Linked DNA regions of Homo sapiens. The protein of the gene in region 1 interacts with the protein of each later gene in a pairwise test. Each region holds a gene or a part of one and is shown on either strand. Other genes may lie near its edges.

Region 1 (3,948 bases):
GGGTATGAAACCCAGAATGCCAGGAGCCGCACGCGCCTGCTCGGGGCGGCATTTCTTTGGCTGGCCGCCGCCCTGGCTACGGGGATTTGGACACATGGACCTGGGGTTGTTGTCTCGCTTGGCACATGCATCTTTCTCCAGCCACTCCTGAGAAGTTGATGGCGCAGGAAGGTCGGGAAGCTTCGAGAGCCGCCTCCCGTTTTCCGCTTCCCGCCGGAGCCAGATGCAAAGCTGCCGTGGAATAGCCTGCTAACAATGGGCCCGGGGCGCAGACTCTGGGCTGGACACTGGGAGGGGGGCGAGAGGCTGAGGGGAGAAGGGGAGGCGGACAGAAGAGAGAGGGAGGGAGAAAGGGGGAGAAGAGGAAAAAGAGGGAAAGGGACAGACAGGAAGGAAAACAGACCGAGAGAGATCAGTTTTGAGATCCAGGAACTGCTTTTAGGAAAAGTGAAGGAGGAAAAGGGAAAGAAAAGGAAGACCCCTTCCCAACCAAAATCTTTCCTTTCTTCTCTCTTTTCTGTCTTCTCTTTCTCCATCTCTCAAACTCTCTCTTCTTCCCTCTCTCTTTATTCTCCCTCTCTCATCTCCTCTCTTCCTCTGCTCCTTTCTCCTGCTTTAACAGAACTTATGTGGCTGGGACGCAGGGCCCTCGGGTGTCAAAACTTTGAAGATTAATGGATTACTTTGTTAATGACTGCAGGCGTCAGACTGAGGTGCTTAAATGATTTGTGAGGTGCGAGGCGTCTTCCCGACAGTCCCAAACAATGCGCGGAGTGTGCGGGGGAGGCAGAGGGCAGCCACCGGCGGGACCGACAGCAGGGCTTACACTCGCGCACATTCACACACACACACACACACTCCCAGGCACACACACTAGATAGATCCTTGCAGATCAGGAGGCACGCAGGCACCCTCGCCCCCACGTACTCCGGGACATCCCCACCCACACCAACATATATGTATTTTTGCTCTGAAAAAAGTGTAAATAAAGCCTCGCTGGCCCCCAATGAGGCGTTCCTTCCCGACTTTTTTGGATCAATCAAACAGACAGTGGCTTCTTTTGATTAAAGCCCAAATTGTCATTGGGCAGAAGCAATCATGTGACAGCCAATTCGGTCCAATTTCAACCTTGTCTCCATGAATTCAATAGTTTAATAGTAGCGCGGTCCCCATACGGCTGTAATCAGTGAATTAGAAAAAAAACACCCTAGCAGCGATATTCTATGATAGATTTTTTTTCCTCTGCGCTCGCCTTTTTCCTAGGCCTTGCCCCCCCAAAGCCCCTCCAAAAGAGGGAACTTTTTCTCTGAGGGGGCTCCAAGGAGAAGGCCATGAATTACGAATTTGAGCGAGAGATTGGTTTTATCAATAGCCAGCCGTCGCTCGCTGAGTGCCTGACATCTTTTCCCCCTGTCGCTGATACATTTCAAAGTTCATCAATCAAGACCTCGACGCTTTCACACTCGACACTGATTCCTCCTCCTTTTGAGCAGACCATTCCCAGCCTGAACCCCGGCAGTCACCCTCGCCACGGCGCTGGCGGCCGCCCCAAGCCGAGCCCCGCGGGCAGCCGCGGCAGCCCGGTGCCCGCCGGCGCCCTGCAGCCGCCCGAGTACCCCTGGATGAAGGAGAAGAAGGCGGCCAAGAAAACCGCACTTCTGCCGGCCGCCGCCGCCGCCGCCACCGCCGCAGCCACCGGCCCTGCTTGCCTCAGCCACAAAGGTCAGTCCAAAGACTTGGCCCCAGGTCTCTGGGACCCTCTTCCTTCTCCGGGCTGCCCCGAGAGTGGCTGTGGGGGGAGGGGAGAGTGGGCTGGGAGAGAAGGAGGAGAGGGAGAGATGCTTGGTTGCCTTGTCCCTGCCCCTGTGGGTTCAGGAGTGGGTTTGATGGAGAGGAAAGGGGATCCTGCGCTCTACAATGAGACATATATATTTTTAGGAAGTGGGGGGAAACTTTCCCGAACTTGTGTAATGTGGGATGATTTATTTGAGTTGGAACTGACCTCCTCCTGTCTAGTTGTCCTAGAGTTTGGCTTTTTGACAGTAATGAAGAGTGATAGATCGCTCTTGCTCAGCTAAGCAGCTGACGCATTAATTATAAATTGTGTTGTGGCTAATATAAAGTTTGCTCCCGGATGAAGAGGTTGGGGGGAGCCACAGGCATGAATTCGATAGAGATGGAGGAGACGGGGTCTGCCCAGGCTGGGCTCCCAGGAAAGGCAGCACAATAGCTCTACTGCATCCAGGGGCGGCCATTTTGTTGCAGTTGATCTTTTCTGCTATATTTATTCTCCAGTGGAATAACCCCGCTCGGACCCCTCCACCTCCAACTGTGCGTGTGTCTCTTGTTGGTTTCCCTTTCCGCAGAATCCCTGGAAATCGCCGATGGCAGCGGCGGGGGATCGCGGCGCCTGAGAACTGCTTACACCAACACACAGCTTCTAGAGCTGGAAAAAGAATTTCATTTCAACAAGTACCTTTGCAGACCCCGAAGGGTGGAGATTGCAGCGCTGCTGGATTTGACTGAGAGACAAGTGAAAGTGTGGTTTCAGAACCGGAGGATGAAGCACAAGAGGCAGACCCAGTGCAAGGAAAACCAAAACAGCGAAGGGAAATGTAAAAGCCTTGAGGACTCCGAGAAAGTAGAGGAGGACGAGGAAGAGAAGACGCTCTTTGAGCAAGCCCTTAGCGTCTCTGGGGCCCTTCTGGAGAGGGAAGGCTACACTTTTCAGCAAAATGCCCTCTCTCAGCAGCAGGCTCCCAATGGACACAATGGCGACTCCCAAAGTTTCCCAGTCTCGCCTTTAACCAGCAATGAGAAAAATCTGAAACATTTTCAGCACCAGTCACCCACTGTTCCCAACTGCTTGTCAACAATGGGCCAGAACTGTGGAGCTGGCCTAAACAATGACAGTCCTGAGGCCCTTGAGGTCCCCTCTTTGCAGGACTTTAGCGTTTTCTCCACAGATTCCTGCCTGCAGCTTTCAGATGCAGTTTCACCCAGTTTGCCAGGTTCCCTCGACAGTCCCGTAGATATTTCAGCTGACAGCTTAGACTTTTTTACAGACACACTCACCACAATCGACTTGCAGCATCTGAATTACTAAAAACATTAAAGCAAAACAAAGCATCACCAAACAAAAACTCCTTTGACCAGGTGGTTTTGCCTTCTTTTATTTGGGAGTTTATTTTTTATTTTCTTCTTGACCTACCCCTTCCCTCCTTTAAGTGTTGAGGATTTTCTGTTTAGTGATTCCCTGACCCAGTTTCAAACAGAGCCATCTTTTACAGATTATTTTGGAGTTTTAGTTGTTTTAAACCTAACTCAACAACCCTTTATGTGATTCCTGAGAGCAGTATGAGGCCTGCAAGAAAGTGATCATATAATTGTATCTTCACTTTCTTTTTATTTTTGTATTACATTGGGATGCATTGTCATGCATATTTTTTGTAGAATAAATTCTCCTTTGCTATAAGTAGCTTATTTTTCTCCCCCTCTTTTTTCAAGGCTCATAACGGGTTCTTTTTCTTCTTTTAGTCTAACTTCGTAAATAAAATTCGTCACAATTTATCCTCTTTTTTCAATTTTAATACATTTATTAAGGCGGCATGTTCAAAGTCTTCAATGGACAGCAACAAAACAGAAAGCCAAAAAATGACTAGGGCTTCTAATAAGTGTTTTTTCTTTCTTTTTTGCTTCTTCTTCTCCTCTTTCTTTTTAAAGGATTTGATTTTCAGTGCACAGGTTCAAGCCATAGATTTAAATTGGTAATAGAGGCAGAATTGGACAGTCTAAGATTTGGGCCAAGCCCAAGCTCTTGAAAGTGGAGAAATAAAGTGCCTACAGAAACCCCCAACTCCAGGAATGAGTAACACGGAGTTTCTTTAATAAGCTACCAGTCTCCAGGTCAATAACTAAGTTATCAACAATTCATTTGTTTATACACTT
Region 2 (3,500 bases), on another chromosome or scaffold:
TTTCCACATTCGTGAATGATGGTGTGCATCTTTGAACATGGGTCCTTGCCTGCCTAAGTATTTTTGTAGGTTGATCATTGTAAACTTGGAAAGCACAAAGACAGAAGCCAGGCTTGCTGACTCTTGACTGATGTTGCCCCAGTGATGTCACTCCTGCAAAATGCAAAGCCTGCGTCCTGGCTGTCGGAGCATGTGTGGACATTTGGCAGCTTCTTTCTCTTCCCTCCTGCTCTTCTGTTTGTTTTGATTGGGAAGGATATGGAGTGGGGATGGAGAAGGGTGTTGAGTAATTATCGATGGTTTCTGTATGTTTATTGCTCCTGACTAGCAGTGCTGGGTTTCTTCTCTCAGAGGAAAGCTGAAAGAGATTGCTTTGCTTTTTTCCAGAGTTTTAAAATCAGAGGTGTGTGTCTCGAGTGTATTTTCAGACTTTTTTGTTAGCTTTAATCATGTAAAACATGCAAAAAAAAAAAAAGCATGTGGAAACAATTTTTTTTTTTTGAGACGGGTTCTCGCTCTGTCACACAGGCTGGAGTGCTGTGGGGCGATCTCGGCTCACTGCAACCACCGCCTCCCATGCTCAAGTGATCCTCCCACCTCAGCCTCCTGAGTAGCTGGGACCACAGGTGTGCATCACCACACCTGGCTAATTTTTTTGTGTTTTTGGTAGAGATGGGGTTTCACCATGTTGCCCAGGCTGGTCTCTTATCTGCTGACCTCAGGTGATCTGCCTGCCTCACCCTCCCAAAGTGCTGGGATTACAGGCATGAGCCACCACACCCGGCCGGAAACAAATTTTTGAAGGAGGCATAGATCTCTGTTGTGCAAAATAGATACTTTTTGTACCACTGGGTCCTAGTTTGTCATTGTTCCTTGCATGATCCCATCAGATTTGTCTACAGAGCTGCTGGGGCATGATGGTGTGGTGGCGTATTAAGAACGCAGGTTAGTGGCACACAGATGAAATAAATGCATGTGGGGTGCATTTTTAAGATAGCAGGTGCAAAGTTGTATATACTGAGACCAGGCATTAACACTTGCCTATTACAGTGCCTTTTAAAACACTATGTGAGGGCCGGGTGCAATGGCTCACACCTGTAATCCCAGCACTTTGGGAGGCCTAGGTGGGCAGATCACCTGAGGTCAGGAGATCGAGACCAGCCTGGCCAACGTGGCGAAACCCCGTCTCTCCTAAAAATACAAAAAATTAGCCAGTCGTGGTGGCATGCACCTGTAATCCGAGGTACTAGGGACGCTGAGGTAGGAGAATCGCTTGAAGCTGCGAGGCAGAGGTTGCAGTGAGCTGAGATCACACCACTGCACTCCAGCCTGGGCAACAGAGAAAGAGATTCCGACTCAAAAAAAAAAAAAACAAAAAAAAAAAAAACAAAACTGGACCAAATGAAACAAGTGAATCTGATCTGCAGTCAGTCAGTTTGCAACCCCTGGGAAGCCTTGGACTTGAATGCAAAGATCCCTTGAACTTGGATCTAGTTTGCCTCTGCTGCTCACATGCACATTTAGAGATGGCCAAGGCATACGGTGTTTCTGCTTCCAAGAAACAGAGTGGTTGTCCTGTTTAGCCATCTCTTACAGTCACACAGCTTAAAGAAGATAATGTTTGCAAACAATTTTTGAAATGTCTAGCACACAGCAAACAGAAGGTCAAATTCAGTACTTAATGCTGATAAAATAAGAGAACCCTTGCAAGTCATGTTGCCTGCTTTCTGCCACAGAGAGTACTGCAATAGAACTTTCTGACGTTTTCATGTTGTTTATTTATTTATTTTTTGAGACAGAGTCTTGCTCTTGTGCCCAGGCTGGAGTGCAGTGGTACAATTTCTGCTCACTGCAACCTCTGCCTCTGGGTTCAAGCAATTCTTGGGCCTCAGCCACCCAAGTAGCTGGAATTATAGGTGCGCTCTACCACACCTGGCTAATTTTTGTGTTTCTAGTAGAGACAGGGTTTCACCATGTTGCCCAGGCTGGTCTTGAACCCCTGGGCTCAAGCAATCCACCCACCTCAGCCTCCCAAAGTGCTGGGACTACAGGCGTGCATCGTGACGCCCTGCTGATTTGTGTATTTTTAGTAGAGACGGGGTTCACCTTGTGCTGGTCTCAAACTCCTGGGCTCAAGCAATCTGCCCACCTCAGTCTGCCAAAGTGCTGGGATTACAGGCGTGAGCCATCGTGCCCGGCCTCTCTCTGACATTTTTGAATGGCAAAGGCAAAAATCTTATACTTTTAAGGATGTGGAGAAATAGGAACACTTTTACACTGTTGGTGGGACTGTAAACTAGTTCAACCATTGTAGAAGTCAGTGTGGTGATTCCTCAGGGATCTAGAACTGGAAATACCATTTGACCCAGCCATCGCATTACTGGGTATATACCCAAAGGACTATAAATCATGCTTCTATAAAGACACATGCACACGTATGTTTATTGCGGCATTATTCACAATAGCAAAGACTTGGAACCAACCCAAATGTCCAGCAATGATAGACTGGATTAAGAAAACGTGGCACATATACACCATGGAATACTATGCAGCCATAAAAAATGATGAGTTCATGTCCTTTGTAGGGACATGGATGAAATTGGAAATCATCATTCTCAGTAAACTATTGCAAGAACAAAAAACCAAACACCGCATATTCTCACTCATAGGTGGGAATTGAACAACGAGAACACATGGACACAGGAAGGGGAACATCACACTCTGGGGACTGTTGTGGGGTGGGGGGAGGGGGGAGGGATAGCATTGGGAGATATACCTAATGCTAGATGACGAGTTAGTGGGTGCAGCACACCAGCATGGCACATGTATACATATGTAACTAACCTGCACATTGTGCACATGTACCCTAAAACTTAAAGTATAATAATAATAAAGAAAAAGAAAAAAAAAGATTGCTGTTTTATGATAAAGTGAAGTGCAGCTGTTACTTCTTCCTTCTTTGCTTCCAGCATCTCTCTTCCCTAAGGATTGCTTTTAAAATGTAAGAGTTTTTGGTTGAAATGCTGTTCCTGTGGTTTTTGTCTCTTGGTTGGAGTGAAAGATTTTGCAGGCTGTGATACAAATCCAGTTCTCTGCTTATTTTCTCCTCAGTCCTTGAAATCCAAAACCAGATCCCTCCCATTGGCCCGTTGTAATTAGAACCTGCCCCACAATAGACGCACCTCCTAAAGCATCTCAGATTCATTTCTTTCCTGAGGATTAAGTTTTTAAACCTTCCTGGCCAAGATAACAGTGTTTTAAGAGGCTCTTTTCTTTTATTATTATTATTATTATTATTACTCTTTTCTTTTTTTGAGATGGAGTCTTGCTCTGTCACCCAGGCTGGAGTGCAGTGGCAGGATCTCTGCTCACTGGAACCTCCACCTCCCGGGTTCAAGAGTTTCTTCTGTTTCAGCCTCCTGAGTAGATGGGATTACAGGCATGTGCCACCATGCCCAGCTAATTTTTGTATTTTTAGCAGAGATGGGGTTTTACCATGT

The links.
Region 2: the proteins of HOXA2 (region 1) and NDE1 interact in a two-hybrid assay, tested with the Homo sapiens proteins (one large-scale study listed by BioGRID).

What each region holds. Positions count from the first base shown.
Region 1 is NC_000007.14:27,099,884-27,103,831, reverse strand, and holds HOXA2 (homeobox protein Hox-A2), read left to right. Parts: upstream 1-1,148; 5' UTR 1,149-1,331; coding exon 1,332-1,722; intron 1,723-2,366; coding exon 2,367-3,106; 3' UTR 3,107-3,478; downstream 3,479-3,948. UniProt on the Homo sapiens protein: Sequence-specific transcription factor which is part of a developmental regulatory system that provides cells with specific positional identities on the anterior-posterior axis.
Region 2 is NC_000016.10:15,653,245-15,656,744, forward strand, and holds part of NDE1 (nuclear distribution protein nudE homolog 1), read left to right. Parts: intron 1-3,500. UniProt on the Homo sapiens protein: Required for centrosome duplication and formation and function of the mitotic spindle. Essential for the development of the cerebral cortex.